Linked DNA regions of Homo sapiens. The protein of the gene in region 1 binds, or shares a complex with, the protein of each later gene. Each region holds a gene or a part of one and is shown in the gene's direction. Other genes may lie near its edges.

The links.
Region 2: the proteins of GINS1 (region 1) and GINS4 are in contact, whole or in part, in a crystal structure (PDB 2E9X), measured with the Homo sapiens proteins. Residues at the interface, in NP_066545.3 of Homo sapiens: Phe24 (codon at 4,843), Leu29, Leu33, Met36, Tyr40, Leu69, Leu70, Arg73, Thr76, Val77, Leu80, Tyr81, Leu84, Arg88, Trp92, Glu109, Glu110, Trp113, Asn116, Tyr117, Ser120, Leu121, Tyr124, Ser127, Leu128, Gly129, Gly130, Asp131, Leu134, Ile136; in NP_115712.1 of Homo sapiens: Met55, Glu59, Glu83, Arg84, Arg86, Tyr87, Leu89, Ser90, Leu93, Arg94, Leu97, Glu101, Phe104, Glu125, Glu126, Phe129, Glu132, Phe133, Asn136, Thr137, Tyr140, Leu141, Val144, Ala145, Leu146, His148, Met149, Pro150, Pro151, Asn152.
Region 3: GINS1 (region 1) and MCM3 share a complex: the UniProt entries of both Homo sapiens proteins name them as parts of the CMG helicase complex.
Region 4: the proteins of GINS1 (region 1) and CDC45 are in contact, whole or in part, in a cryo-EM structure (PDB 6XTY), measured with the Homo sapiens proteins. Residues at the interface, in NP_066545.3 of Homo sapiens: Leu146, Tyr147, Glu149, Arg151, Glu158, Thr165, Ser166, Val167, Leu168, Lys170, Lys171, Asn172, Ser173, Gln174, His175, Phe176, Leu177, Pro178, Leu195; in NP_003495.1 of Homo sapiens: Arg18, Gln37, Phe40, Gln41, His44, Val45, Gln46, Tyr47, Thr48, Leu49, Val50, Pro51, Glu64, His65, Gln68, Phe69, Thr394, Asp395, Ile398, Leu401, Asp402.

What each region holds. Positions count from the first base shown.
Region 1 is NC_000020.11:25,403,048-25,410,686, forward strand, and holds the start of GINS1 (DNA replication complex GINS protein PSF1), read left to right. Parts: upstream 1-4,625; 5' UTR 4,626-4,773; coding exon 4,774-4,848; intron 4,849-5,023; exon of another isoform or gene 5,024-5,248; intron 5,249-7,639. UniProt on the Homo sapiens protein: Required for correct functioning of the GINS complex, a complex that plays an essential role in the initiation of DNA replication, and progression of DNA replication forks.
Region 2 is NC_000008.11:41,524,440-41,532,266, forward strand, and holds the start of GINS4 (DNA replication complex GINS protein SLD5), read left to right. Parts: upstream 1-4,821; 5' UTR 4,822-4,957; intron 4,958-5,744; 5' UTR 5,745-5,763; coding exon 5,764-5,859; intron 5,860-7,827. UniProt on the Homo sapiens protein: Required for correct functioning of the GINS complex, a complex that plays an essential role in the initiation of DNA replication, and progression of DNA replication forks.
Region 3 is NC_000006.12:52,281,743-52,289,718, reverse strand, and holds the start of MCM3 (DNA replication licensing factor MCM3), read left to right. Parts: upstream 1-4,976; 5' UTR 4,977-5,044; coding exon 5,045-5,122; intron 5,123-6,312; coding exon 6,313-6,425; intron 6,426-6,857; coding exon 6,858-7,066; intron 7,067-7,543; coding exon 7,544-7,674; intron 7,675-7,976. UniProt on the Homo sapiens protein: Acts as a component of the MCM2-7 complex (MCM complex) which is the replicative helicase essential for 'once per cell cycle' DNA replication initiation and elongation in eukaryotic cells.
Region 4 is NC_000022.11:19,510,903-19,517,919, forward strand, and holds part of CDC45 (cell division control protein 45 homolog), read left to right. Parts: intron 1-3,846; coding exon 3,847-3,985; intron 3,986-4,062; coding exon 4,063-4,146; intron 4,147-5,624; coding exon 5,625-5,743; intron 5,744-5,911; coding exon of another isoform or gene 5,912-5,914; coding exon 5,915-5,991; intron 5,992-7,017. UniProt on the Homo sapiens protein: Required for initiation of chromosomal DNA replication. Core component of CDC45-MCM-GINS (CMG) helicase, the molecular machine that unwinds template DNA during replication, and around which the replisome is built.

The sequences.
Region 1 (7,639 bases):
TGCGAGACTGCATCCTTTGAACAATAGGCACTAGATTTCTCCGTAGATAACTTCAAGGAGCCCGGCACCAGGGAGCGCGGCCCTCAGCCAACCTTTTGGTGGCAGGCACAGTGTGAGTTTGCTCACATCCTGCATTCTTGATAAACAGTTTGCTGTTTGATAATATAGCCTCCAGTGGAATGCTGAGTTGGTCACAATCCCTTTGGCCTTTTCAGCTCCCAACATCTGACCTGACTGCTGGCCTCTCCTATCATCAACCTGCTCCAGCATCACTGCCTCTTTGCTCATCCTCAGCCGACCTTCCTGGGGCCTTTGCAGCTTGATTCCTCTGCCTGGAATTTCCTGCCTTCCCTAAGGCCCATAACCACTTGGGTTATTTTCTCCCTGTTCAGGTCTGTGCCTTCTCTGAACACTTGAACTCAAAACCCTGACTCTTTCACCTTCACTCTATTCATCTTCTTTGGGTTATTCTTAGTGCTTTTTCACCAATATATTTCTTATCAGTGTATCTGTGTATTGCGTTTTCCCACACTGGAATGTAGACTCTGTAGAAAGGACTTTGTTTACTGCTTTATTTTCAGTATCTAGGTCAATGCCAGGCTAATACTAGTGTAAACCAAAAATAAAATCCCAAACCCTCCATCCCCTGCTGACTGGATGGACCCCTTCTGGGCCAAGGGGACCCCAGGGAAACCTGAAAAAAAACAAAAATGGAATTATCGGCTATGACAAGAAGCAAGATGGGATGCACCTTGTTGTACCCCCTCCCTTTTGGAGTATAGGTGCAACTGGCCAGCATTAACATTAAAATAAAGATCCTAAGACTCACAAACACACTCTTTGTGGCAATAAGGTCCAAACTCCAACCTGACTGATGTAGCATCACATGACAGATAGCAGACTCTGAAGGAAATCAAGATGTTTTACCCCAAAATATATTTCTTTGAAATATTTTGAAATGGCCCTGGAAAGCCATCTTTTGTGTGGGGAATTTGCATCTGTTAAGAATCTCCGTTAATGCAGCCAGGTCTTTCCTGAATCTAGGAGAGGTTAAACAAGAGTTTAACACACCTTTTAAGATCCAAAAAGAGACATTTACCATCAATTCTTTCAGAAGGCTGCTGCCTATGAGGCTTCATCCACATAACAAGAAACTTGGTCTCCACAACCTCCCCCTTAACTCAATAATTTCCTTCTATTGACAGTCTTTAGACAAAACTTGACTCAACCAATTGCTAATCAGAAAATCTGTAAGCTCCCTGCTTCAAGATATCCCACCTTTTTAGGCTGAACAAAAGTACACCTTCCATGTGTTGATTTATGATTTTACCTATAATTCCTGTCTCCCTAAAATACATAAAACCAACCTGTAACCTGTAACTGCACTGCCTCAGGCACGCTTTCTCAGGACCTCTTGAGGCTGTTCCTGGGCCATGGTCACTCATTGGCTCAGAATAAATCTCTTTAAATATTTTAGAGTTTGGTTTTAACTTCAACACTAGGCATTTCATAAATATTTGCAGAAGGTATGACTGAATCATCTTAACTCCTTAGAGGTGGTTCCACTGTTCTCATTCTACTGTTAAGGAAGTGAGTCTTGGGGTCATTAATGAACTTTGCCTCTGGGCTGAAATTAAAAAGGCCTATGGCTGAGGAGGGTAGTGCATGCTGGTCTTTGATTCAGTCCTGCAGCATAGTCCAGTCTAGAGTTGTGTATTTGGGAAAAACACCTAGATAAACTATTCCTTACTGTAGAGATGAAAATATAATTGCCCAAGGGATTCTCCTTGTCCACTGCCCAGACAGAGCTGATTTATCAAGACAGGGGAGTTGCAATAGAGAAAGAGTTTTTTGGTTTTTTGTTTGTTTGTTTGTTTGTTTGTTTTTTGAGACAGAGTCTTGCTCTGTCGCTCAGGCTGGAGCTCAATGGCACAATCTCAGCTCATTGCAACCTCCGCCTCCAGTGTTCAAGTGATTCTCCTGCCTCAGCCTCCCAAGTAGCTGGGATTACAGGCATGTGCCACCAGGCCCAGCTAATTTTTTTTTTTTTTTTTTTGAGACAGAGTCTCACTCTGTCACCCAGGCTGGAGTGCAGTGGTGAGATCTCGGCCCACTGCAACCTCCACCTCCTGGGTTCAAGCAATTCTCCTTCCTCAGCCTCCTGAGTAGCTGGGATTACAGGCGTGTGCCACCATGTTCAGCTAATTTTTTTGTATTTTTAGTAGAGATGGGGTTTCGCTGTGTTGGCCAGGCTGGTTTTGAACTTCTGACCTCAGGTCATCCACCTTGGCCTCCCAAAGTGCTGGGATTACAGGTGTGAGCCACCATGCCCGGACAGGCTAATTTTTGCATTTTTAGTATAGATGGGGTTTCACCATGTTGGCCAGACTGGTCTCGAACTCCTGACCTCAGGTGATCCACCCGCCTCAGTCTCCCAGTGTGCTGGGATTACAGGCGTGAGCCACTGGGCCTGGCTGAGAAAGAGTTTAATTCACGCAGACCCAGCTGTACAGGAGACTGGAGTTTTATTATCGCTCAAATCAGTCTCCTAGAAAACTCCAAGATAGGGATTTTAAAGGATAATTTAGTGGGTAGGGGGTCACAAAGTGAGGGGTGCTGATTGGTTGGATGAGAGATAAAATCATAGAGAGTCAAAGCTGTCCTCTTGGGCTGAGTCAGTTCTTGGGTGGGGACCACAAGACCAGATGAGCCAGTTTATCGATCTGGGTGGTGCCAGCTGATCCCATCAAGTGCAGGGTCTACAAAATATCTCAAGCACTGGTCTTAGGTTTTATAATAGTGCTGCTATCCCTAGGAGCACTTGGGGAGGTTTTAGAATCTTGTAGCCTCCCGCTGCGAGACTCGTAAATTTCTAGTCTTGTGGCTACTCTGTTACTCCTGCAAAGGCAATCTAGTCCCCAGACAAAAAGGGTTTCGCTTTGGTAAAGGGCTAAGTATTTGTTTCAAAATTAAACTATAAACTAAGTTTCTCCCCAAGTTAATTCGCCCTAAGCCCAGGAATGAACAAGGATGGCTTGGCGGTTAGAAGCAAGATGGAGCCAGTTAGGTCAGATCTCTTTCACTGTAATAATTTTCTCTATTATAATTTTTTCAAAGGCGGTTTCAAAAAGGCAATGTTTGCTGGGTGCGGTGGCTCACGCTGTAATTCCAGCACTTTGGGAGGCCCAGGCGGACGGATCCCTTGAGCTCAAGAGTTGTCGACCAGACTGGCCAACATGGTGAAACCCTGTCTCTACTTAAAATACAAAATAGCCAGGTGTGGTGGCCTGAGCCTGTAGTCCCAGCTACTCAGAGGGCTGAGGGGGGAAAATTACCTCAGCCCGGGAAGTGGAGGCTGCAGTGAGCTGAGATGGCGCCACTGCACTCCACCTGGGTAACGGGAGTTAAGACCCTGTCTCCAAAAAAAAAAGGCAATGTCATTATTCAACATAAGCCTGAGTAGGCCATTCCCATGCCCATTCCTTAGATGACATATCTACTGTATATTTGCAAAAGATCAACATAGTTTCTAGGGTTAGCTAGAATTAATCCAAGATTGCGCCGGTTGCGGTGGCTCATGCCTGTAATCCCAGCACTTTGGGAGGCCGAGGTGGGCGGATCACGAGGTCAGGAAATTGAGACCGTCCTGGCTAACACGGTGAAACCCCGTCTATACTTAAAAAATTCAAAAAATTAGCTGGGCGTGGTGGCGGGCGCCTGTAGTCCCAGCTACTCGGGAGGCTGAGGCAGGAGAATGGCGTGAACCCGGGAGGCGGAGCTTACAGTGAGCCGAGTTCGCGCCACTGCACTCCAGCCTGGGCGACAGAGCGAGACTCCATCTCAAAAAAAAAAAAATCCAAGATTGCTTGTTAGAAATTAACATTGCTTTTTGAAAAATTGCCTAATAAAACAATTCTTTAGCAGTGATTCCCATCTTCCATATGCTTAAGAAATATTCCATAACCATCTAGCCAAGAAAATTCCTAGTGAATTCGTATTAATCTAGGGCAGATATTACAAATATTTTTAAAAGACTATTTTAAAATCAAAGGGTGGTACTGTGGTGTTGGAAATGGAAAGCCTAAATAACAGTCTAATCACTCTGGAGCTGTGTGACCTTGGGCAAGTTACCTAACTTCTGTTTCCTTATTAATCCCGGGTCTTAAAACACTTCAGAGATAATTGTGGGAATGAAATACACACTGCAGTCCCTACCAGCACTAGGTACCCAATAAAAGAGAGTTTCATTTTAATATCAAACAGAAAACCCGCACTGCAAAACTGAAACCCTTGCGTCCTACCAATGCACACCAAGTTTTTGGGCCTTTCCTCTTAACCTCAAAGTGCTCTTTTCTTGAACCTAAACGAGAATGAATGAATCAAAAGGAAAATGACAAGGAAGCTGCGGGGCGTGCATTTATTTCCAGCTCTGCTGCCCGTAGAGTCCCCCGGCCCACTGCCTGAGAACTGGAAAAGCCGTCTCTGCTCAGCCGAGGGGTTCTGCCATCTCCGGGGCGGGGACCTCACCTTGGAAAGACCCCTCCCACTCCGCCCCTCTTGGAATGCGGCTGAGCGGTGGATGTCCCTTTTCGGGCGCCGTAGGCGCGTTCCTATTGGCTAGCTTTGTTCGGCGCCAAAGCGCGGAGCGGAGGCCGAGGCGAGAGCCTGGCGCTGTAGGACTAGAACGAAAGGAGTGAGGCGCCGAGAGCCCAGATACCATTTTGGCGTGAGAGCTGGTGGTTGGCAAGGCCGCGGGAGTGGGAAGCGTCCGCCATGTTCTGCGAAAAAGCCATGGAACTGATCCGCGAGCTGCATCGCGCGCCCGAAGGGCAACTGCCTGCCTTCAACGTGAGGGGCGGGTAGACTTGGACGGGGCATGCCGGCGTTGGGCCCTGGGCTCTGGGGCGGGGCGGCTCCCCGTCAGGGTTCACTTTCGCACCTTGTTCCCTCCGAGCTCCGGAAAACTTGGGAAGCAGCAAAACAAAATTCAGGAGGAAAGAGAAAGCATTCATGCTTACGCTACCCAGCGATTTGGTGAATTTCCTCATCTGAGCAAATTTTGCATTTTAGCAGTTTTCCTTGGACAGATTTGTTCCGGTCCCTTAAAATATTTACAGGTTGCCTGATAATTTAGCATTTCTTGCTCACTCAGGCATCTAATCGTGGTCAGTAAAAGCTAGGCCTCTGGAACCTGGCTGAGATTCTGGTTCTGTAGTGTGACTTTGGGGCAGTTACTCAAGCTTTCTGTGCTCTCAGTTTTCTCATACGCAAAAATGGGGATGGTGACAATAATAGTACCCAACGCATGATGTAGTGGACGCAAAATGAGTGGCATGTGTAAGGGTCTCTGCATATGCCTCACATACAGTAAGGGCTGAGTCAGTGTTAGCTATTAATATTACTTTTCTCCTGCTGCTGCTGTTACTATTAATATTATGATTATTTGTATTTTTCTATCACTGCTACCCCAGGGAGAGTGCTAAGCACTTCATGTACATTATCTTTTGTCTTTCTAATAACCCTTTGAGGGCCCGGTACCATGGCTCCTGCCTGTAATCCCAGCACTTTGGGAGGCTGAGGCGGGAGGATCGCTTGATCCTGCCACTGCATTCCAGCCTGAGTGACAGGGAGACCCTGTCCCAAACAAAACAAAAATAACTTTTTGATGTTTAAACTATTGTTTTCTACTTTTTTCAGCTATATATGCATAGGATTGGGGAGATTTAAGTATATTGCCTAAGGTGACACAGCAAGAAAGCTAGGATTTGAACCCTGGCACTCTGGCTCCAGAGCCTGCACTCTAAATTGTATATTTCACTTACGTCATAGAGCAGGCATTATGTGGATGTCAGGACACATTCTGCTGGAAGATGGGCACAAAAACAGATAATAGAATTCACCACGCTAAGTGATACTAAGGAGGTATAGCAAGGAGCACGAAGGAGAAACACCAGTATGAGCTGGGGTAGAAGAGGTGATATATGAGCCTTTCCATCCTCAAGGATGAGGTTACTGATCTGAGAAGGAAGCGAGGCATCCCAGCCAAAGGATGCTGCAGCACAAAGTCACGTGGTCACACTGGAGAGGGTGACCAATAGGGCCTGTGGGGAGTCTAGGAAGGTGGCTCACAGCCTACATGAATTTGTTGTTCACTTATAAGGCATGCTGGGAGCTGGTAGAGGATTTTAGACAAGGAAGTGATAGGGTAATTTTTGTGTTTTGAAGGTAACTGCGGCAGCAATATGGGGAATGGATTGAAGAGAGGAAAGAATGGGACAGGGAGATGGCTACTGGGTGGCTGATAGAGCAGGTGAGAGGTGTGTGGTCTGAACTGTGTCAGGTCAGTGGCACTGAGATCAGTGTTTGGGTTTTAGAGACATGAAGCAAACATGACTTGTAGCTATTAGAGCAGGGGCAGAGATGGGGTCCATAATGAATAAGAGGGAGGAATTGGGATCTTGGAGGATCCTTAGGAAACTGGGTAAACAACATCAGAGTTCAGGAGATAGAGTGTGTTGGGAAAGGTAATGAGTTTTGTTTTGAACACTAAAGAGCACCTAGCCAGACAATTAGATTGTCTTACAAATGAAGAAACTGAGCTGACACAAATTATGGGTCAAGTTAAGGAACTCGTCTGAATTTACAGCATATTGGAGGTAGAGCTTCAACTTGAACACAGGTTTTCCAGTTTCTAGTCAATTGTTTTTTCAACTTCAGAGCAGTTACCTCATTTAAAAAGTTAGGCAGCAGTCTGCAGCTCAGTAGAGATGCTTGAATGCAGAAGTGTGTAAATGCTAAAATGTGGCCTGAGAACTAGGAACTTTAGAGGTCATTGTACATATCAGGACACAGGCCTAGAGAACAGAGAGACTGTGCAAACAGGTGCGGCCAAGCTGGATTTTGGACCTGACTCTGACACTTAGTTTAGCTCTCTGTTTTACTCAAATTTTAAGTTAAGTGTTGGGTTATCACTTTGTGGGGCTAGGGGCTGGTCTTAGAAGTTGTAGAATCAGGCCAGGAGTGGTGGCTCACGCCTGTAATCCCCCCACTTTGGGAGGCTGAGGCGGGCGGATTACAGGGTCCTGAGATTGAGACCATCCTGGCTAACATGGTGAAACCCCGTATCTACTAAAAATACAAAAAATTAGCCAGGCGTGGTGGGATGTGCCTGTAGTCCCAGCTACTCGGAAGGCTGAGGCAGGAGAATGGCTTGAATCTGGGAGGCGGAGGTTGCAGTGAGCCAAGATCGGGTCACTGCACTACAGCCTGGGCGACAGAGAGAGACTCCGCCTCAAAAAAAAAAAAAAGTTGTAGAATCACTGTCTTGTAGGTCTTAATTTGGTGGAGCACCTTTTGTCTCACTAGTGCCTTCCACTGACAAACCCACCTGATACTCAAGGTGATCCAGCAGCCTGGAACACTTAGTCAGCCTGCAGAGGCTGGCCTCCGACTCAGCGGCACAGAGGAAGGCTGACAGTGGATCTGAGAGGCCCAAGGACCACACAGGCTTTTCTCTTTTTTTTATTGTTTTGAGATGGGAGTTTCGCTCCTGTGGCCCAGGCTGGAGTGCAATGGTGTGATCTCGGCTCACTGCAACCTCCGCCTTCTGGGTTAAGCAATTCTCCTGCCTCAGCTTCCC
Region 2 (7,827 bases), on another chromosome or scaffold:
CCCCATCTCTACTAAAAACACAAAAATTAGCCGGGCATGGAGGCACATGCCTGTAATCTCAGCTACTCTGGAGGCCAAGGCAAGAGAATCGCTTGAACCTGGGAGGCAGAGGTTGCAGTGAACCAAGATCATGCCACTGCACTCCAGCCTGGGCAACAGAGCGAGACTCTGTCTCAAAAAATAAAAATAATGTACCACTGGGCCAGGTGCAGTGGCTCACGCCTGTAATCCCAGCACTTTGGGAGGCCGAGGCGAGCGGATCACAAGGTCAGGAGATCCAGACCATCCTGGCTAACATGGTGAAACCCCGTCTCTACTAAAAATACAAAAAATTATCGGGCGTGGTGGCAGGCGCCTGTAGTCCCAGCTACTCGGGAGGCTGAGGCAGGAGAATGACGTAAACCCAGGAGGCGGAGCTGGCAGTGAACCGAGATCACGCCACTGTACTCTAGCCTGGGCGACAGAGTGAGACTCTGTCTCAAAAAATAGTAATAATAATAATAACGTATGGCTGTCCACAAATATTTTGGCTGTTTCTATTTGCTGTGTCTATAATTTCCATTAACATCTTCACTGAGAATATCTGAATATTGCTGTGGCTTGTCACTTTCTTCAGTTGTATAGGATCCTATTTTCTGTATCTTCCTCTTCCACTTTGGGCAGTAGCTTTTTCCTTCTCTTTCGAGGTAACTTCATGTTTTACTTGTCTGAATTCATGTTAGTATGTTCATCTTGCAATTTAAATCATCTAAGCTTGCCTGCAAATTCTATCCACAAACTTCATCCTCCTAATATAATAATCTATGTAATCACCTTTTATCTGTGATCATTTTAATGAATTGCATTCCATTTATATGGCTATCTTATTATTTCTAAAACACTTCTTGACAGTGGGTGCACATCAACCAGGTGTTCCTGATTTTTCTCTTCATTCTATATAATGTAATTGAAGACCTCTTTTCTCCCACCTTCCTGAACTTTACAGTGCCAAACGATCAACACCAAAAGTTTGTGTGTTGCTTTGGCATTTCTTTTAATAACCCTTCTTTACACAGCAGAAATATTTTTCTGCCAACTCATTTCCTCTAAAAGTGTTTTTGTCTAATGAATATTAGTTGTAATCAAAGATCTTAGAAGTGAAACGGGTCCCTCAATTTTTTGGTCTGTCCCTCTGTCTTCAGGCAGACACATATTAATTTTGTGTAAAAGGTGGTGTGATTAGCCAGGCGCGGTTGGATCACTCCTGTAATCCCAGCAATTTGGGAGGCTGAGACAGGTGGATCACTTGAGGTCAGGAGTTCGAGACTAGCCTGGCAACCATAGCAAAACCCCATCTCTACTAAAATACAAAAATTAGCCAGGCGCGATGGCGTGCACCTGTAGTCCCAGCTACTCGGGAGGCTGAGGTGGGAGAATCGTTTGAACCTGGAAGGCAGAGGTTGCAGTGAGCTGCGATCACACCATTGCACTTCAGCCTGGGTGATAGAGTGAGACTCCATCTCACAAAAAAAAAAAAAAAAAAAAAAAAAAAAAAAGGTGGTGTGACTGATGGCCAGGTGTGGTGGCCCCCTCCTGTAATCCTAGCACTTTGGGAGGCCGAGGCGGGCAGATCACTTGAGGTCAAGAGTTCAAGATCAGCCTGGCCAACATGGTGAAACCCCGTCTCTACTAAAAATACAAAAATTAGCCAAGCGCGGTGGCACATGCCTATAATCCCAGCTACTCAGGAGGCTGAGGCAGGAGAAGCACTTGAACCCAGGAGGCAGAGGTTGCAGTGCACCAAGATCGCACCATTGGACTTCAGCCTGAGGGACAACAGCGAAACGTCATCTAACAACAACAGCAAAAAAGGTGGTGCAACTGAAATCCAAAGTGACTCGTTTAAGGTCACACCTCTATTAAGTAAGGAAGCAGAAGCTGGGCTCTAGCTCTCCAGTGGAGGAGCGGGGGAGATTGGAGAAGGTGGTTGGACCCAGAGAAGGGAAGTTTTTAAATCAATAAACTACATAATCGGCACTTGTGTAGAGACGTTATCTATGCTTGGACTCAAATATGTAACAATTAAGGAATATTAATAAACATCATTGAAAAGCTATTTGGTAATGAGAATTATGGAAGAATGCGATTGTGCTCAAAGACCACTGTTCCAGTCAGCTAATGCTACATAACAAACCACTCCAAAACTTAGGGCCTAAAACAACAACAATACTTATTTTGCTCACAAATCTGCGATTTGGGCAGGGCTCAGCAGAGAAGCTCATCTCTGCTCCCTTCATCTTAGCTGGGACGGTTTGAAGCCTCAGCACTAGAATCACCTGAAGGCTCATTCAACCCAGACATCTGGAGAATGGAACAACTGGGGTTCTGGGGTTCCTCCAGTAAGGCTCCCCATCTCTGCCTGGCATCTTCATATCGACTCTCTTGCACATCGACTGCAGGCTAGCCAGACTTCTTCCACGTCAGCCCACAGCTCTCAAGAGATGGGGCTCCAGAAAAAAGAGCCAAGTGGAAGCCACATTGCCTTTTATGACTTAGTCCCAGAAGCCAAGCAGCATCACTTCTGCCAAATTCTCTTGGTCAAAGCAGTTAAAAAACTCTTTCCTGATGTAAAAGGCAAGAACAGGGCCAGGCGCTGTGGCTCACACCTGTAATCCCAGCACTTTGGGAGGCTGAGGTGAGCAGATCACTTGAGCCCGAGTTCAAGACCAGCCTGAGCAACATGATGAAACCCCACCTCTACCAAAAATACAAAAAATTAGCCAGGCATGGTACACACCTGTAGTCCCAGCTACTCATGGGGGCTGAAGTGGGAGGATCACCTGAGCCCAGGAAGGTCAAGGGTGCAATGAGCCGTGACCGCCCCACTGCACTCCAGGCTGCGCGACAGAGTGAGGCCCTGTCTCTAAATAAATAAATAGAAGGTGAGAACATAGACCCCACCTCTTGATGGAGGAGTGTCAATGTCACATGGTAAGAAGGGTATGTGGGGTGAGATCCATATTAGAGCAGCTATGTTTGGGAAACACACTCTGCCACAACCAAAAACCACTGGATTACCAAACCGTTGAAACAGACCTTGAAATAACCACCTATTTGCCACTCACAAAATTCATTTCATAAGACACAGCTCAAATGTCCCTTCCTTTTGGGAATCCCGTGCTGATATGCCCCAGCTTACACAGCGCTTTGTAAAGATGCCTACTCTCTCACTCGGCTTATTCTATTGTCATTTTCATAACAGGATTGTAATCAGGCAGGTACGATCATACTATATTAGCCAATCATTTTACTAGTCAATCAATATGACATCATAGGGCAGCTTTGCAAAGAGCCCTCAGATTGATGGAGAAGAGATACTTTTAGGGAAGCCAGAAGCAACGCTTTGCACAGAAAACAAAGGACAGCAAAGAGAAAAGAATCAGCAACTCAGAGAAGAAAAACTGGATCACACAAAGATGGAAAAAATATATACATATACAGACATGGGTTTTTGTGCTTTTCCCCTCCAGAAGGTGAGTTGAAAGCATTGCCCCAAAGCAGTGATTCTCTTTTCTTTTTTCTTTTTTTTTCTTTTTTTTGAGATGGAGTCTGGCTCTGTCTCCCAGGCTGGAGTGCAGTGACGCCATCTTGGCTCACTGCAGGCTCCGCCTCCCGGGTTCACGCCATTCTCCCGCCTCAGCCTCCCGAGTAGCTGGGACTACAGGCGCCCGCCACCACGCCCGGCTAATTTTTTTGTATTTTTAGTAGAGACGGGGTTTCACCATGTTAGCCAGGATGGTCTCGATCTCCTGACCTCGTGATCCGCCCACCTCGGCCTCCCAAAGTGCTGGGATTACAGGCGTGAGCCACCGCGCCCGGCCCCAAAGCAGTGATTCTCAAACCTCAGCTGTGTCAGGGTCACCGGGAGGGCCTGGGTCTGGTGAAATACCCCCAGTTTCTGATTCGGTGGGCCAGGGTGGGGCCTGAGAACCTGCATTTTCACGGATTCCCAGGCGATGCTTCTGCTGGTCGTCCGATCCCAGGCTTCAAGAACCAGTACCCACTTTGTGAGGCCGAGGTGGGAGGATTGCTTGGATCCTTGAGTTCGAGACCAGCCTGGCCATCATAGGGAGAACCTCCCCACCCCCAACCCCGCCACAGTTCTTTTTTTTTTTTTTTTTAATTAAAAAATAACTGGGCGTGGTGGCGCTGGCCTGTGGTCCCAGCTACTCCGGAGGCTGAGGTGGGAGGATCGCTGGAGCCCGGGAGGCGGAGGTTGCAGTGAGCTGTGGTGGTGCCACTGCACTCCAGCCTGGGCACCAGAACGAGACCCTGTCTCAAGAAAGATGAAAAGGAATATACTGGAGATTCTGAAGGCAATGACCACACTGACCACAGGTGAAACCCCGCAAAGACGGAGGAACCCAAAGAGCCACGAGAGCTGTGGGTGGAGACGGCCCAGGAGGCTGCAGCGGCCTGCTTTCAACAGCATACTTCTGGGTGGGACCCCCCGGGGCGGACACCGCCGCTCCCCTTGGCCGCGGTGGCGGGCGCCCCCTCCCGACGCTCTTGGGTAGTGCAACCCGGACCGCACAGCGGAGCGGCCGGCCCCCAGGTGGGCGGGGCCAACCCGGACCAGCCTCCCGCCGCCTCAAGTCCTTGGGTTGCTGGGACTGCAGGCCGCCGCGAAGACAGTCCCCGCCCGCCGGGTGGGCGGGCCCAAGGAGACCGCCCCGCTCTTCCCCCCGGGCCTTGATTGGTCAGCGTCGCCCTTGCGCGATGACGTCGTGCCTGGGCGGAAACTTTGCGAGAGTAGCGCGGGAGCTGAGAAGTTGCAGGGTTGAGTTGGTCCCGGCAAGTCCTTGAGCAGTTTGTTCCTCTGTCTTCCCGCTTCCTGGTGCCCCGACTGCGTCCCCACGAACGCCCCGTCCTTACCGCCGGCTGCTGTGGAGTGCCTCGCTGTCTCCCAGGTCCCCGAGTGAGCGTCGAATGGGACCTCTGTGGCTAGGGCAGGCCTGTGTGGGTGGCACTGAGAGGGAGGAGGGGAGGGGGATGTTCGCAGTTTCCTTGCGACCCCAGGGACTTTCTTTGTCCCCGCCATCCACCTCCTTAGGCCTTTGGGATCGCCGACTGGTCTAATGTCGCCGGCCCTTGTGGCTCTGGGAAATTAGCATTGATTAATCTTCCTAACAATTTTTGTTTTTATAGAGACAGGATCTCCCTATGTTGCCCAGGCTGGTCTCGAACTCCTGGGCTCAAGGTATCTTCCTGCCTCGGCTTCCCAAAGTGCTGGGATTACAGGCGTGAGCCCGGCCAGCTCCTAATAATGTTAAGTGCTTGCTAGGAGTCAAGCGCTGTGCTGAGCGCAGGGGCTTCCCACGTCATTGCGTCCCCAGTGCTTAGTGCCAGGCACTGAGCAGAGGCGCGATTCGTATTTGAACTAAAACGAACCCCGTCCCTGAGGAACAAGACCTCTACTGGGAAGTCAAAGAAATGAATAGTGATTGTATGGTGTGATGGGTGCTCAGCTCTTGGTGGACAGAAGTAAGGGGGAGGCTTGTTTGAGAAACGGATACCTGACCTAAGCCTTGGAGGAAGAGGCAGACACTGGAAAACTAGAGTCCCTGCGTTCTCTCACCACTTGCTAAAGGGCCTCTACAACCCCAGGAAACCTCAATAAACCTTTCCTTTCTCCAGATAGATGTCTGTTCTTGCAGATAATTAGAAAACGCATTGCAGAGTATTGGTTCTTTCCCTCTCATTAGGTTCCTGGTTTCAGAGAAGATGACCGAAGAAGTGGATTTCCTGGGACAGGACTCTGATGGGGGTAGTGAGGAAGTGGTCCTAACTCCTGCAGAGCTCATTGAAAGATTGGAGCAGGTAAGCATCCCAGATCGAATCCCTTTGCTCCAGTCAGCCTTTTTATTTAGTTCAACTGTGAATATCAGGGATCACAAGATGAGGAAACGGAATTTGGGGCTTACTTTAGAACAGGGACTGGATCTTACCATCTACATGGAAACGGGAAGCAAGAAGGACATCCTCTGTTAGAGACCTCATCATATCAAACACAGCATCCCCAAGTGGGGTCAGTAAGGGACAGCTTTGGGCACATTCAGTGAACAGTTCACAGAGCAAGGATCCACGTGATATTTTCAGGGACTGTAGAGGTCCCTGAACTTCTTTACCTTAGTCCCTTGAACATCTGCTGTTTCCCTGGAGAATGCCTGTTTAGCAAGAAAATGCTGAAATGCCTGTAAGGGAAAACTGGTCATATTTTTCCTTTTTCTCACATGTTTTTTCTTGAGTCGTCTGCTCTCCATATGTCCACTGCTTATCTAAAATCCTTTCTGAAATATTTCTCCTTTAAGTTGTAATAGCTATGACTTACTGCATATTTCCCATGTGCCAGTAACTGTGTTCTTTACACTTATATCTCATGATGCTCTGGTAACAGGAGTTCAGACTATCTGGATTTAAATCTGTCTGTGACACTCCTCTGTTATGTGATCTTGAGCAAGTTAGGGAGTTTGTCTCAAGCCGTTGCTTGCCTATAAAATTGAGACAATAGGGCCGGGCACGGTGGCTCAAGCCTGTAATGCCAGCACTTTGGGAGGCTGAGGTGGGCGGATCACCTGAGGTCCAGGAGTTCGAGACCAGCCTTACCAACATGGTAAAATCCCGTCTCTACTAAAAAACAAAAATTAGCCGGATGTGGTGGCGCATGCCTGTAATCCCAGCTACTCGGGAGGCTAAGGCCGGAGGATCACCTGAACCTGGGAGGCAGAGGTTGTGGTGAGCCAAGATCCTACCCACCATTGCACTCCAGCCTGGGCAACAAGAGTGAAACTCCGTCTCAAAAAAATAATAAAATAAAATTGAGATGATAATAGTGTCTATGTCCTGGAGTTTTTGATTAAATGTGGTAATTGTGTAAAGCACTCAGCATGCTATCTGACACATGATAAGCACTCACTAGATGTGAGCTGTTCATAGTAAGTATCCTTATCCTCTTGCTCTAACTGCCCCTTTCCAGAGCTCTCTCATGTTTGCTACTTTAGTATTCTTCATTCTTCCCTGCCATACATGATATCACGAATGACAAAACGGAACTAAAATGATTTTTAAATTATACCTTACATGATAATCCTTACTATTTAGCAGTGATTCTTAATCTGTTTTTATATCACAGACCTTTTTGAGAAACTGGTAGAAACTGTGGTCTTTCATCCCACAATAACGCACACATGCACCCATGCAGAATTTTGCATATGACTTCCAGGGGATCAGAGATCCCCTGAAATCCACCCACAGACCTAGTTTGTGGAACAGCATTAAGAATTCCTGGTTCGTTAGGAAAGGGTTCATTAAACAAAAATCAAAAGGCACATAGCATAAAGGAAAAAAGGGATACATTCCTGGAGTGCAGTGGTGTGATCTTGGTTCACTTGCAGCCTCCACCTCCCAGGTTCAAGCGATTCTCCTGCATCAGCCTCCTGAGTAGCTGGGCCTACAGGTGTGCACCACCACGCCTGGCTACTTTTTGTATTTTTAGTAGAGATGGGGTTTCACCATATTGGGTTTCGCTGTGTTGGCCAGGCTGGTCTTGAACTCCTGACCTTGTGATCTGCCTGCCTTAGCCTCCCAAAGTGCTGGGATTACAGGCATGAGCCTCTGTGCCCAGCCTGTTTGTACTTCTGGATTAGAGTGAAAAGACAGGCCACCAGGCTGGGAGAAGATATTTGCAAAATACTAATATGTAGCTGACACAAGATGATTATCCACAGTACATAAACAGCTCTTTCATACTGCCCAGTACAGACTGATACCTCAGAGAAGAAGAAAACA
Region 3 (7,976 bases), on another chromosome or scaffold:
CATAGCCAGACCCCATCTCTACAAAAAATTGAATTAGCCGGGCATGGTGGCACATGCCTGTGGTCCCAGCTACTTGGGAGCCTGAGGCATTGCTTGAGCCTGGGATGTTGAGGCTGCAGTGAGCTGTGACTGAGCAACTGCACTCCAACCTGGGTGATAGAGCAAGATCCTGTCAAAAAAAAAAAAAAAAAAAAAAAAAAGAAAAAGAAAAAAGAAAAAATTCTCAACACTTTTTAATATTGATTACATATTGAAATGGCAATATTTTGGATATGTTAGGTTAAATATATTACTAAATTAATTTCAACTGTTTCTTTTTTACTTTTTAAAATGTGGCTACTATAAAATTTAGAATTATGTATGTGTCTTGTATATTTCTATCCAGCAGCACTGATCTAAAAGTCTTTGTTCCAGGACAGAATTAGGTATACAGATTACAGATGCTTAACTAATATTTGATTGTTTGGTATGGCTAAAGCTCTTCATCATTTTTAAAAACATTTATTTCTTTTTTCCCCTACCATGCCAATGTACATCATTTTATTACATTAAGGGACTGTATCTTTAAAAATGCATGCTTACAACAAATCTAGACAGATTTACAGAATGGAGTTATTATCAGAGCATTTCATATGCTATATTCATATTCACTCAATTTGTGTTTAATCATTTCCTTCTGCAAATCTGTGGTTCTAAGCATTGAAGCAAAGCTCTTCAGAGCATCAGTAAAGACTTGTACAATTAAGAATGGGGGCTCAGCCGGGTGCAGTGGCTCACACCTGTAATTCCAGCACTTTGAGAGGCCGAGGTGGGTGGATCATGAGGTCAGGAGTTCAAGCCTGACCAACATGGTGAAACCCAGTCTCTGCTAAAAATACAAAAATTAGCTGGGCATGGTGGCGCCTGCCTGTAATCCCAGCTACTCGGGAGGCTGAGGCAGGAGAATTGCTTGAACCCGAGAGGTAGAGGTGGCAGTGAGCCGAGATTGCACACTGCACTCCAGTCTGGGCGACAGAGCGAGACTTCGTCAAAAAAAAAAAAAAAAGAATGGGGGCTGGGCATGGTGGCTCACGCCAAGGTGGTAGGATCACTTGAGGCCAGGAGTTTAAGACCATTCTGGGCAGCATAGTGAACCTATCTCTCAGAAAGAAAAAGAATGGGGATGACTTCTTACGGACTAAGAAATCAGATTACTGAAATTAACCTTGGCAAATACCAATGAATCACTAATTGTTGGCAAGCCAACTGTGTTGTTATATTTAATGGGAAAATCATGATCACTGATGTTCTCTGTCTGGCTCCTGGATTTTCCGGCTCTTTTTAGCATATCTAACCGGAAGGACTCCAGGAAGCAACAGAAGAGTGCAAAAGGGAGACAAGAAAGGTGATCAGACTCGTTTATTTATTTATTTTTTGAGACAGAGTTTCACTTTTGTCACCCAGGCTGGAGTGCAATGGCGTGATCTTGGCTTATTGCAACCTCCGCCTCCTGGGTTCAAGCGATTATCCTGCCTCAGTCTTCCAAGTAGCTGGGATTATAGGTGCCGGCCACCATGCCTAGCTAATTTTTTTGTATTTTTGGTAGAGACGGGGTTTCACTATGTTGGCCAGGCTGGTCTTGAACTCCTGACCTCAGGTGATCCACTTGCCTCGGCCTCACAAATTGCTAGGATTACTGGTGTGAGCCACTGTGCCGGCTGACCAGACTCTTTTAAAAGAGTTTTATAAAGGAGTCCATTTAGTATTCCATAATGTTCTTTGAGCATGGAGTAAATGCATCTGATGGCTTCCAACACTGTCGGAATCCGAGCCAAACAACACCCTGCCTATGTTATTTTTTTTAGCCAATTGGACTTCCAGCAGAAAAAGGTCCCACTCAAGGAAGTGTCTGGGTTGGTTGTATTGTAAGTTTTTTGGTGGAAGTGGGAAGGGGGTTTGAATTTGGTTGTCTGAATTGTTTCAGAATGCACTACAGTGCTTCCTCCCCTTCTCCTATCCCTTGACTCCTCTCCAACTACCATTCACCACCACTACCAATGGTTAACATTTATTTAATGCTTACTACATACCAGGCACTTTTTTCAGTAGTTTACATCTGTTATGACTTCACTGGATACTTAAACATTTGAGTTAGATACTACTAACCTAATTTGAAAGGTGAAGAAACTGAGGCACAGAGTGGTTAAGTAAGTTGCCTAGTCGTGCAGGTAATATACAGAGCAGCCAGAAAGAGTAACCAAATCTGCCTGTCTTGGTGCTTGAAACTCTAGATGCTACAGCATCTGAAGATTCTGACTTCACACTGCAGAACTGTGAGGTTAGGGCAAGCCTGTGCCTACAGATTATTCCTTGAGCTGCTGTGACACCTGGAGGCATAGATTTGCTCACCTCCAAGCTTTGGTGGCCTTTGAGTAAATGTCAAAGGACTGCTAATGAATTATGGCACTTTCCTGAGTGCCTAAACAAGTTATTAATTACAGGGTATTATTTGAAATGTTTTGCAACATATAATGTTCATTAGTTTGAACAAAGGTATATATAATTTCTTGTAATAATATTTATTATGGATTTGTATTGTGTCTTTGGGTATTTTTTGGACCCTGAGGACATAGAAAAATGGCAGTATTACATCTATTTTGCAATCTCTTTGCAATCTTGTTTTCTTTCCATTCTCTTCCTGTATACTCTGCTCTCCAGGGAGCCCCCTAGCGTTTAGGCAGCCTTGGAGATGGGCTTGAGTCCATTAAAGTCTAGGGTGGAAAGAAAATTGAAATGGAGGAAAGCAGGAATGTGACCCAAGTATGGAAACTGTAGATACACTACTTTATTAGATTATATGTGCTTTTTAATTTTGAATCAGGATAGAGGAGGACTACGGGCTAAGCTCAGCTGGACTTTTTATGAGATATGTACAAATGCCCCTAATTTTTCTGTAGCAACAACCTGATTGATTTTGGGCAGTTTGCAGGTGTCGGGGATAACAAAGGAAATACATTTCCTCTGCTTAAAGATTTCATGCCCTAATGAAAGAAGGGAGAAACACCAATTAAATAGCGGTGTGTCCTTCACAGCTGAAGATGATTATATTGGGACAAATCAAGTCTTTATCAAAGACCATGGCATGATTAATTCATTAAATAGAATTGTCTTTACATAGTTTCCAAATTTGCCATTAGCTCATGGAATGTTAGAGTAAGACAGATTATCAGAGATATTCTAATTCAGTTTCTTCATCTTATACTGTATATAAGGAAACAAGCCCAGAAAAAAGTGTGAGAATCAAAGATGTGGTTTTCAGATTTCCACTCTTTTGGACTTTCTACTACAAATGACTCGACTTCTTTGCTAGTTTGAACTAAGCTTCCCGGTTCTTTTAGTGTTAATTTCAAATTGTTTCCAGAGCAGAGGATATCTCAGTACTCTGTCCAATAAGTTCATAAAATAAGAGTTATGAGTAAAAAGTCTTAATAAATCAGTAATTACCTCTTGCTATATAACGGCAAACAGTATCTTTATTCTAGAATTTTCTTTTTTTTTTGCCCGTTAATAAACATAAAAGCAAGCAGTCAAATGACAGCCTTTTTGCTTTGGCTAAGGATCGATTTATCTGCCCACTAGGATGGCACAAAACATACAGTAACTATAAACTGAATAATAACTAGAAATACATATACCCACACAAATAGATGGCCTATATATTTTGTTTAGGCAGATTATTCTTAGAATATTTATCAGTACATAGTGAGTCCTGAAGACTTTAAAACATAAGCTAATAGTTGGCTGAAATTTCAGATAAAGAATTATCAAATGTCTGATGTTGGGCAATCCAGTATTTCAGCTTCTTGTTCAGTAAAATTAAAAACACATGCTGGGGCAATGGGCTTGCTCTTTATTGTGCAGAGTGGTTACATGGGTGTAAGCACAGGTAAAAATTCACTGAGCTGTACACTTAAGATTTGTGCATTTTACTGTATATACATTATATCTCAAAATAAAACTAGAAATATAAGAAAAAGCCAACCACGACGGACTGAAAACAAACATACAAATTTGGACGTGCGATGATCTTTTAGTCATTATGGTTTCAGATTTGCTGTTAGTTACTGATTGATATTTAATCAAAGTGACGTGAAACACTTTTTCCCCTCTTGAGCTGATCGTTCAGTAAGCTAAGTTACTTAAAAGGATCTTGTGATCTTTTTATAAGACCAGAAAGCCTTTAATTTACCTGTTATTAAGTAAGATGGAGTAGTAACGGTTTCCAAAATTTGTATAACACACGATGAAGTCTCTAGGGGGCAGGGTAAACACAGATTTTTTTTTTCACTTCATCCTTCTCTGCGGCGATGTCTTTATGGAGTTCGTCAGGCAACGGTATCAGATAGCAAATGGGTTTTTAACTAATCTTTCCCTAAGGTACTGTAGTTCTATATTCTATCCTATAGATTCTCAAAATCCACTTTTACACTAGGATGCCACTGGAGGGCAGTTCTGATTTGGATATATCTTAAAAATGATTTGCTTTTATGTTTTCATCTCCCTGCGTTATAAAGCACCATCCTCTGAATTTGGTCGTTGCATCGGGTCAAAAGTTCTGCAGCTTGAAAAACCCTGCAAAAACATCCGGAAAGGAGGGAGAACACTACAACTCCCAGAACGCAATGCTTTCCCTCTCGCCAGCCTGTCCCCTCCAGCTGCTCAATGACCAGCCTCTGTGAGCCTCCTCTCAGCCCTATTGGTCAGTTTGCTCGTCAGTGAGTGAGGCGGAGGGAGGGGAGGAACAGAGAATCCCGGATGGTACGTTTCCCGCCACCGCGGGGCGCGCAGCGGAAAACCCGAAGAAGAAGAAGCTTTTGATTGGACAGTCGCTAGTCCGACCTCAGAGAACTCAGCCAATCATAATGCTTATATGCTCCCAAGGTCCCCGCCTCTTCCTCGAGGTAACCTTTGGTGGCGGGAAGAGTTCGGAAGTTTTCGCGCCGGGGTGGAGTCATCCTGGGAACCTCCACGCGACTTTGGTGGAGGTAGTTCTTTGGCAGCGGGCATGGCGGGTACCGTGGTGCTGGACGATGTGGAGCTGCGGGAGGCTCAGAGAGATTACCTGGACTTCCTGGACGACGAGGTGAGGGAGGCGCCGGCGCGCGGGCTCTAGCGCTCGGAGCCCCTGCGGACGCGGCCCGGCCGGGAAGCCAGAGGCCCGCCAGACCTCCAGACCGTGTGCCGCAGCGGAGCCTGCCGGGCCCGAGCCTCCAGCCCCAATCTTGTAACTTCTCAACGCCGGACTCGCTAGTTTGTGTTCGATAAGTGAACTCTTAGGAAGCCAGCTTTCTCTTAAGTACAAGCGATGGTCCGGGCGCGCAAAAGGCGACAGGTTCCCATTAAGTGCAAGCAGATTGGCAAAGCCCACCTCGGCCTTTTGCATTTCACTGCTCTCTCTTGATTTGAGGAGACTGTGGGGGAGGGGCTGCCCTAGGGCTATAGTGACCAGCCGCGTTGCAGAGTGCTCAGATTTTAGGGACTGACGTTTTACCTGGAGGAAAAGACTCCATAATTCGGCTGCATTCTTTTTCAATACCAACTAAGATGCAGATAAAAAGTGTTTTGTGTGCAGGCCAAGGGGATTTTATGTGCAACCCAAGACTTAAAGCCATAGAATGTTGAAAAAACCATCTTGAAGGGTTGATGATGTGACCAAATAGCTGAGATTCTCTATTCCTTTAGGTCGGGGTATGAGAACCCTTTCCGTATTATAGAGATGATTGGAAAAAATATTACTTTTTACATAATTCTTAAATGAAAAGCCATTTTAATGTGACTATTAAGAGTCTGTTTTATTTACATTTTTATTGTATATATTTGAAGTGCACATGTTTTGATATACATGGTGAAATGATTACTACAGTGAAACAACATATCCATCTATTCACGTTGTTACCTTTAACATTCACATTGCTAGGTTTAACTTAACATTTTAACAAAGTTTGCACTTACTGTCCATTTAGACTTCTCATGAGCTCATTTTAATTCTCCACTAAAGACAGAAATTACAGCATGCAGAAAAGTTGTCCATGATGATGGGAATAACAGCATGGACCTTGAGGAAGTCATTATAATTCTTATAGTCCCCTCTTAGGGTGTTATTTCGAATCTAAAAACAGTGAATGAAAGGGAGAAATTGATGAGCACATACTTACTGGGGATTCAGCTCTGCTGCAGAGATTGACTTAGCTATCTGGCTATGAGAACTACTTCTGTTTAGAAACATTGTTTTTAAATTTGTGGCTATGGTGATATGTGGTGGCTGTTTTGCAGGAAGACCAGGGAATTTATCAGAGCAAAGTTCGGGAGCTGATCAGTGACAACCAATACCGGCTGATTGTCAATGTGAATGACCTGCGCAGGAAAAACGAGAAGAGGGCTAACCGGTGAGAGGCAAGGGGATATACTGGCTGTCAGTGAGAATGGCTCCCTTCCCTCTTGGCCAGATTGGAACAGCCTCTCAGGAGAGGACTTGTATGAAACAGGATTGATCTACAAGCCCTCGTAGCTCACCTGCACCTATTTTTTTTTTTTTTTTTTTCAAAAAGTGGGTGGTTGGCATTTTCCTCCCAAATGCCCCTCCTTCCAATGTTTAGCTGAATATCATTTTTATATCTTTGATAAGTTGAGGTGAAGTTGGTCCTTAGTTCTGGTATTTTACTGAGTCTTATAGGATGGTGTTTTACTGAGACTTATAGGAGAAAGCAGAAGCTGGATTTTCTCATTGTTTTTAATGATCTAAGAATGTCTGCTGTTTTGAGGATCCATTTTTTTGAGTTCTGCCCAGTCTAATTTTTCTTTCTCTTGCTTATGTACAGGCTTCTGAACAATGCCTTTGAGGAGCTGGTTGCCTTCCAGCGGGCCTTAAAGGATTTTGTGGCCTCCATTGATGCTACCTATGCCAAGCAGTATGAGGAGTTCTACGTAGGACTGGAAGGCAGCTTTGGCTCCAAGCACGTCTCCCCGCGGACTCTTACCTCCTGCTTCCTCAGCTGTGTGGTCTGTGTGGAGGGCATTGTCACTAAATGTAAGTGGGTTAAAGGGGGCCGCTTAGGAAATGAATAGACAGGGAGATGGGGAAAGCAGGAGAGGCAAAGTAGATCTGGGTAGCTTGTGGCTTCAAAGAGGTGGAGCATTGGAATTACGTGGTAAAACTTGGAGGGCTCAGTGTGTACAATGATTGGGGGACCTTGAGTAATCACATGTATTAGTAGAATGATGAATTCTGCTGAGAGCTGGAGGAGTCTTGGTTCCTGGCAATCTCTAATTCCAACCTCTAACTCCACCTATTTATTAGTTGGGATTGGTGGTACTTAAAATTTTACATGGATATGGTGGTGGTCTATATATAAATAAAAAAGTGAATAAAAGGTAATATTGAAATATCGTAACCTAGTCAAAAAAACACAGTATTTGGAGTCATTATAGGCTTGCATATGTTTGGGTTCCACCTGTATCATCGTCTAGTTGGGTGAGTTTATATATGCACATTTTCCATCCCTAGGTTCTCTAGTTCGTCCCAAAGTCGTCCGCAGTGTCCACTACTGTCCTGCTACTAAGAAGACCATAGAGCGACGTTATTCTGATCTCACCACCCTGGTGGCCTTTCCCTCCAGCTCTGTCTATCCTACCAAGGTAAGGGGGATAAATCAGTTGAGCTGTCTTGGAGGTTGGAATCAAAGATACCTGTTTTAAGGCAAGGAATTGTGTAATATCTGAAGTCTTTTTTCTGTAAAGGGTGAAAAATAAGGATTAATCCAAAGGAAAGATTGATTGCAGGCCAGAGTTTAATATGAAAAGCCCACAATTCTTATTTATTTATTTATTTATTTTTAAAGATGAGGTTCTCCTATGTTGCCTAAGTTGGAGTGCAGTGGGTATTTGCAGGTGCAGTCATGGTGCACTAAATTTGCAAACTCCGGGGCTCAAGTGATCCT
Region 4 (7,017 bases), on another chromosome or scaffold:
CATGTGGTTTGTTTCCACCTATTGACAATTATGACTAATGCTGCTGTGAACTTGCATGTACAAGTTTTTGTGTAGTCATGTCTTTGTTTCTTTTGGTTATATACCTACATGTGGAAATGCTGGGTGACATGGTAACACTAGGTTTCAAGGAACTGCCAGATTTTTGAGGAACTGCCAGACTTTTCCACAGCAGCTGCACCATTTTACATTCCCACCAGGAGGGAGGGTTTCAATTTCTTCACATCCTCACCGACACTTGTTATTGTCCATCTTTTGGATTACATTCATCCTAGTGAGTATGAAGTGGTATCTCGTTATGGTTTTGATTTGCATTTTACTGATGACTAATAGTGTTGAGCATCTTCTCATGTGCTTATTGGTCATTTGTGTATCTTGTTAGGAGAATTGTCTATTCAAGTCCTTTGTCTTTTTTTTTTTTTTTTTTTGAGACAGGGTGTCACTCTGTTGCTCAAGCTGGAGTGCAGTGGTGCAGTCATGGCTCACTGCAGCCTCAAACTCCTTGGCTCAAGCCATCCTCCCACCTCAGCCTCCTGAATAGGTGGGATTACAGGCATGAGCTACCACACCTGCTAATTTTTAAATTTTTAGTAGAGATGAGATCTTACCATGTTGCTCAGGCTGGTCTCAAACTCCTGGGCTCAAGCAGTCTTCCAGCCTTGGCCTCCCAAAGCACTGGGATTATAGGTATGAACCACCGTGCCCAGCCTAAAACTTTTATATATTCTACATACAAATCCCTTATCAGATAAGTAATTTGCAAGTATTTTCTCCCATTCTGTAGGCTGACTTTTCACTTTGGCAGTGTCCTGTGAAGTATAAGATTTGTTAATTTTGATGACATTTAAGTTACCTACTTTTTCTTTTGTTTCTTGTGCTTTTGGTGTCATATCTAAGAAACCATTGCCTAACCCAAGGTCATGAAGATTTCACATTATTTTTTCTACTAACACTTTAATAGTTTTAGCCCTTACATTAGGAGTATGATTCACTGGAGGTTTTTTTTTTTTTTTTTTTTGAGACAGGGTCTTACTCTGTCACTTAAGCTGGCATGCAGTGGCATGATTTCCACTCACTGCAACCTCTGCCTCCCAGGTAGCTGGGACTACAGGCATGTGCCACTGCACCTGGCTAATTTTTGTATTTTTTGTAGAGACATGTTGGTCAGGCTGGGCCCCTTACTCTTTACTATAGTCTCCTTACACTTCAGCAAGGCCCCTTGCTCTTTACCATGCCCCCTTATACTTTACCAGGCTCCCTTGCTGTTTAACAGGACCCCTTGCTCATTACCAGGACTCCTTGCACTCCAGGGAGGCTCCTTAAACTTTCCCTTGGCCCACTGCACTCACCTGCTCTTGCATAGGGCAAAACTCTCAGTTTGGGCCGCTGCTCTCCAGTTGCCTGGAGTTTTAAGTCTTCTTAGGTCTCACTACCTCTTGGCTTTCTCTCGCACTGATGTAGATAGTATACCTGTCTGGCTGTTCATGGTCTCTTTTTACCTGCTTACACTTTGGGGTTTGAAGTGTTCCCTTGTTCTCTTAATTTGTTGCAAATGTGGGTCCTAGGTTTTTGGTTTTGCAATCTAGTTGCTCTACTTTTATCTAGAAATTTGGGAAAATCCAAAAACTATTTTACCACTGTTGCTGCCATCATCCCAGCATTGATGGGTAGGCTTTAGACATTGTCTACCAACTTCCTGCTATGACAAAGGAGCATTTATCCCACTCTTGTCCACCTTCCCTCCTGTTGGTACAGTTTTGCCACTATTTTTAACTTCTTTGTAACTTTAACATATTTATGTCTTCTTTCATCACTAGTATCTCGTCTCCCTACTTTGTAAGAAAAGGATATTTAAAACACTCTTAGTCCATTTTGTGTTGCTATAAAGGAATACCTGAGGCTGAGTAATTTATAAAGAGAAAAGGTTTATTTGCCTCATAATTCTGATGGCTGGAATGCTCAAGATTGGGCATCTGCATCTGGTGAGGGCCTCAGGCTGCTTCCACTCATGGCAGAAGGGGAGCTGGTGGGTGCAGAGACCATGTGGCAATGGAGGAAGGAAGAGAGAGGAGGAAGGTACTAGGCTCTTTTTAACAACCGTCACGGGAACTAATAGAGTAAGAACTCACTTACACCCCCTAGCCCCAGGGAGAGCATTCATCTATTCATGAGGGGTCTGCACCCATGACCCAACACTTCCCACTAGACCCCACCTCGAAGATCTTGGATCAGATTTCAACATGAGGTTTTGAGGGGACAAATGTCCAAGGTGTAGAAACAGCCTTACTTTGCTCTTCAGTGCTGCTCAGTACTTTCTGAAATTTGTGCTTTTACGTTTTCAAGACTGATAACAATCTTGGGTTAGAGAAAAAGATATAAATTGTCTTATCTTTGGTTACAGGTTGATTTTAAAAGTTGAAAGTAAACAAATAGTTTTACTTTATTGTGCTAATAAACTATTCCAGAGACAATCATGTGTAGTAATAGATTACTATCTGGCACGGCTCTTTGTTTTTCCTGCTGTTTTTAATTGCCTCCTTTATCACATCCATTTTTTTCTCCTCCAAACTCCTTCCAGCTGTTTTTCTGTGAGCCCCTTTTTGCTGGAGAGTCTGGGGTTCTGTCTTCCCACCACAGCCTGGACCTACAGCTCTCTAGACCTGCTTTCCACTGTCCCCATGGATGTCCAAATCTTGGCTGTGCCTCTTAGTTTAGTCCAATGTTTCTTGGGATCTTCATCTTTGTTTCATTTACTCCCTCATTAAATTAGAGCACAGTTCTTAAGTAACATTCAAAGAAAGGGCGCATGTGAGATAAACTTTCTGAGTTCTTATATATCTGACAATATCTTTATTTTACTATTTCTTTACTATTCCCCCCACAGAAAACATCCGTGTTTTTTATTCTTGCTTTTCAGGCTTCCTGGAATGACGATGCTCTGTCTTATTTTTTTGCCTTACATTTTCCATAGCTTTGTCTTGTTATCTATGTTGAGGAAGTTTTTCTTGACTCCAGACTTGGAGTGGATGTTTTATCTTTTGCAACTGTTTTAATTTCCATCAACATTTCCTAGTTTTTAACTCTTCCTTTTTCATAGCATCCTGTTCTTGGTTTAGGAATGTAAGAGTTGCACACATCTCTCTGAAGATACTAATTAGAGTTCAGTTTAACTTTCTTTAGTTCTCCAAATTATCTGTTTCTTCAGGGTTATTTTTTTAGGCCATAGGCATTTCTCAAATGGTCTGATGTCTTTCATATTCAAGAACGGGATTGTGGACCCTTGGCTGGGCCATGGGTATCTGGGCACAGCTCACTGGTCATAAGACATCGTTTCACCTTAGCAGGCAGGAGCCAACTGTGACACTTTGGGACTCCCCACTGTAGGGCCCAGAGGCTTTGCTTGAGGATTCTACTTATTCACAGATGGTACATTTCATATACTCAGAGGGGAGCCTCCCTTTTTGTGGGGAAGAGTAAAAATCTATCTGTTGGGTTTGAGGGGATCCCTTGTCCAACCTCCAGCCCTTGCCCAAGCCTCCCCTGTGTCAGAGTCCTCCTGGGCCTTCAGGATCTTCCCTTTGTTGGCTTTTAGTTTCCTGTCTTCTGATACTTGCACCCGCTCCACCTCTCATTTGCATTACTGTGGGTTTATACATTTTAAAAAATTCTTTCCTTTCATGTGAAAGACAACTCAGGAGGGAAAGAAGATAAATTCTTACCCCCAAACCTCTTCCTGAACCAGGAACCAAGCAAACTATTTGTGACTTTGGTATTTTACCAAGAGTTCCTGACAAGCACCACCAAAGCCATGTGTCTGCCCTGTTACAGGAGTAACCTGGACAAGCTGTACCATGGCCTGGAACTCGCCAAGAAGCAGCTGCGAGCCACCCAGCAGACCATTGCCAGCTGCCTTTGCACCAACCTCGTCATCTCCCAGGGGCCTTTCCTGTACTGCTCTCTCATGGAGGTCAGGCTTCCCACAGAGCACAGGCGCCTGGTCACAGCACCAGTGGCTTCGTCTGACCATCTGTCTCGCCTCCGCAGGGCACTCCAGATGTCATGCTGTTCTCTAGGCCGGCATCCCTAAGCCTGCTCAGCAAACACCTGCTCAAGTCCTTTGTGTGTTCGGTGAGGGGCCAGGCGGGTGCTGTGGGTACAGGAGGGCAGGTGCTTGGAGAGCTCCCTGGATGGGGAGTTAGATGCTGGCCTTGGGGTGCCTGTGGCTGTTGACCAGCTGCAAGGTCTAGGCACATCCATTACTTTTTCTGAGCTGTCTTTTTCTCAGCTGACCCCTAGGAACCTTCCAGTTCTCTCAAGCTCTGATTCATCACTGGCTGTCTAAGTCACTCAGACAAGTAGGGAGGGGCCCTTGCAGAGTGAACAGGGCTGGGGCTTGTGTCCTATTGTTGCAGGTCAGGGAAAGCGGGATGGTTGTAGCACCGACTGGCTTCCCAGCAACAGCTTGTCCACTAAGCTGATTTCCTGTGCCTGGCTTTGTCTTCTGTGTGGCCTAACCCCCTCTTTGCGTTGGCGTGGAACACACTCCTAACTTGGCTGGCTTTAGGGCAGGGGTCCTCACCTAGCCGACATGGGGCTCCTCCCAGATGTGACATGTCAATAATTGAAGTCCTCCTCTGCTTCGAGGATGAGAGTTTATGCCGGGGGCTATTTCAAACAAAATGTGCTAACAGGAAGTTGAACTTTTCTTTTGCCGCTGAACTAACCAGTAAAATGATGACAGATGACATGTGTTCTATCAACCAGGTAATGTCAAAGATAAACTAGGGACAGAGCATGGGCCTTGACGTCCTCTAGGCTGTGTTCAAAGATGAGCCTCCTCATTTGCCAGTTGTGTGACGTGAGGTAGATGATCTGACCTGATCCTCAGTTTCCTCATCCGTGAAATGGGTGAACACATACCCACTTTACAGGATCCATTCATTTACCAGACATGTATTGAACATCCACCACCTGCCCGGCCCTGTTGTGGAGTGACTGCCCATCCTGGTGCACATCCTGGGACACCCCTCAGTCCTAGACACACCAGGAATACTGGTCACCTGGGCTGTAGGGTGTGGGTGCAGCAGGCACAGCAGAGAAGGAAACCCTAAACCTTTATCCTGAAGGAGCGTGCCGGCGGGGGGGACGAGGAGTGGCAGCTGCGGTTAAGATGAGGGGATGTGCTGCCAGGGGATGGAGCAGGATGAGGCGGGGTGGGCTGGGGCCTCCTGGAGAAGGTGGCAGCTGCTGCAGGACCTGAAGGAGGTGAGGGAGAGGATAGCAGGGCAGGCTCCTTGCAACAAACAGCCAAGGGGCAGTGGGGCTAGGCTGGTAGACAAGGAGGCTCGGGGACACAGCATCACAGCCACAGTACCATGCTGTGGGTACGGGAGGGCAGGTGTTTGGAGAGCTCCCTGGACTGGGAGTTAGACACTGGCCTTGGGCATCTAACTTGGGGTGGCTGGGTGGGGACCAAGGCGTCTCCTGGTGACAGCGTCCCTGGAGGCTTTGGGGAGTGGAGTGACTGGGCGCTGTTGGGCTCTGGGCTCTGAGTGTTGAGCTGGGGCCCACCATACCCTGACGGAGGGTGCTCTCCGACTCCATAGACAAAGAACCGGCGCTGCAAACTGCTGCCCCTGGTGATGGCTGCCCCCCTGAGCATGGAGCATGGCACAGTGACCGTGGTGGGCATCCCCCCAGAGACCGACAGCTCGGACAGGAAGAAGTGAGCAGCTTCCACTCGTCCTGGGACTGGAGGGTCGGGGGTGTTGGGGTTATCAGCTTATTAGCCCTGCTGAGTAGAGTGGTATTTGCCTCTAGTGTCTGTCCTGGGGCGGGGGGTGGGAAGGGTCCATTGCAGGCCGCCTGGCCCCCGACATGTCTTGTGTGTCAGCAGCTTTTTTGGGAGGGCGTTTGAGAAGGCAGCGGAAAGCACCAGCTCCCGGATGCTGCACAACCATTTTGACCTCTCAGGTGAGAGTCTCCTGCCACTCTGCCACACTTTCCCACCTGACCCTTTGAGGCTATTGCAGGCCCTGGAACCAAGCAAGTTGGCATGGCTGGAGGAGCCTGGCCAGCAGCCCTCTTGACCTTCCAGATCTGGCCCTGGGACAGGCTACTCCTGGTGGCTCAGGGAGCTCTGGTGAACCTCAGGCCCCTGAGAGGGAAAAAGTGTTTTCCAGGGAATGACTGGCCTGGCTGTGGCCTTACAGCGGCCTTACAGCCAGTGCTAAGGATCACTTTCCCAGCAAGCCTAGGGGACTGGCCACCAGGGCCCGTGTGCCCCGATCTCACCTGTCAGGGTTGGGTTGTTTCTGTTTCATGGGGTGAGGGAACAGCAGGGCCCGTGATGACCCAGGACACCAACCCTTGCTGCGCCAGCCACCTCTCCACAGGCCGGGGTGTGTGTCGTGATAGGTGCTACCTGTGAGATGGCTGGGACACCGGCCCCACCTGTGTGTCAGATGAGCCCAGAATGGATAGGCCTGCCTGCCCACTGCTTCCCCAGCACCAGCACGGAACATGGTTCACATTCGGCTGTGTTGGCGTTCTTATTATTGTTGACAGGTTTTAAAGTAAAACAGACGTATTGATATTTCACCCCGGGTTAGTTTGCTAAAGCTGCCATAACAAAGTGCCACAGACAGGGTGGCTTCAACCACGTGTCTCCTCCCAGTCCTAGAGGCGAGAAGGCCCAGGTCAAGGTGGGGCAGGGCTGGCTTCTCCTCAGGCCTCTCTCCTTGGCTCACACAGATGACCACCTTCTCACTGTGTCCTCACGTGGTCTTTCCTCTGCATACCTCCTTGGTGTCTGTGTCCAAACCGTTTCATCTTCCAAGGACACCAGACAGATTGGATTAGAGCCCACCCTAACAACCACATTTGAACTTAATTACCATAGTCACATTCTAAGGTCCTGGGGGTAAGGGCTTCAACATAGAGATGTGGGGGAGACCGTTCAGCTCATAACACCCTCAGTACTTCCTGCACCTCTGAGAA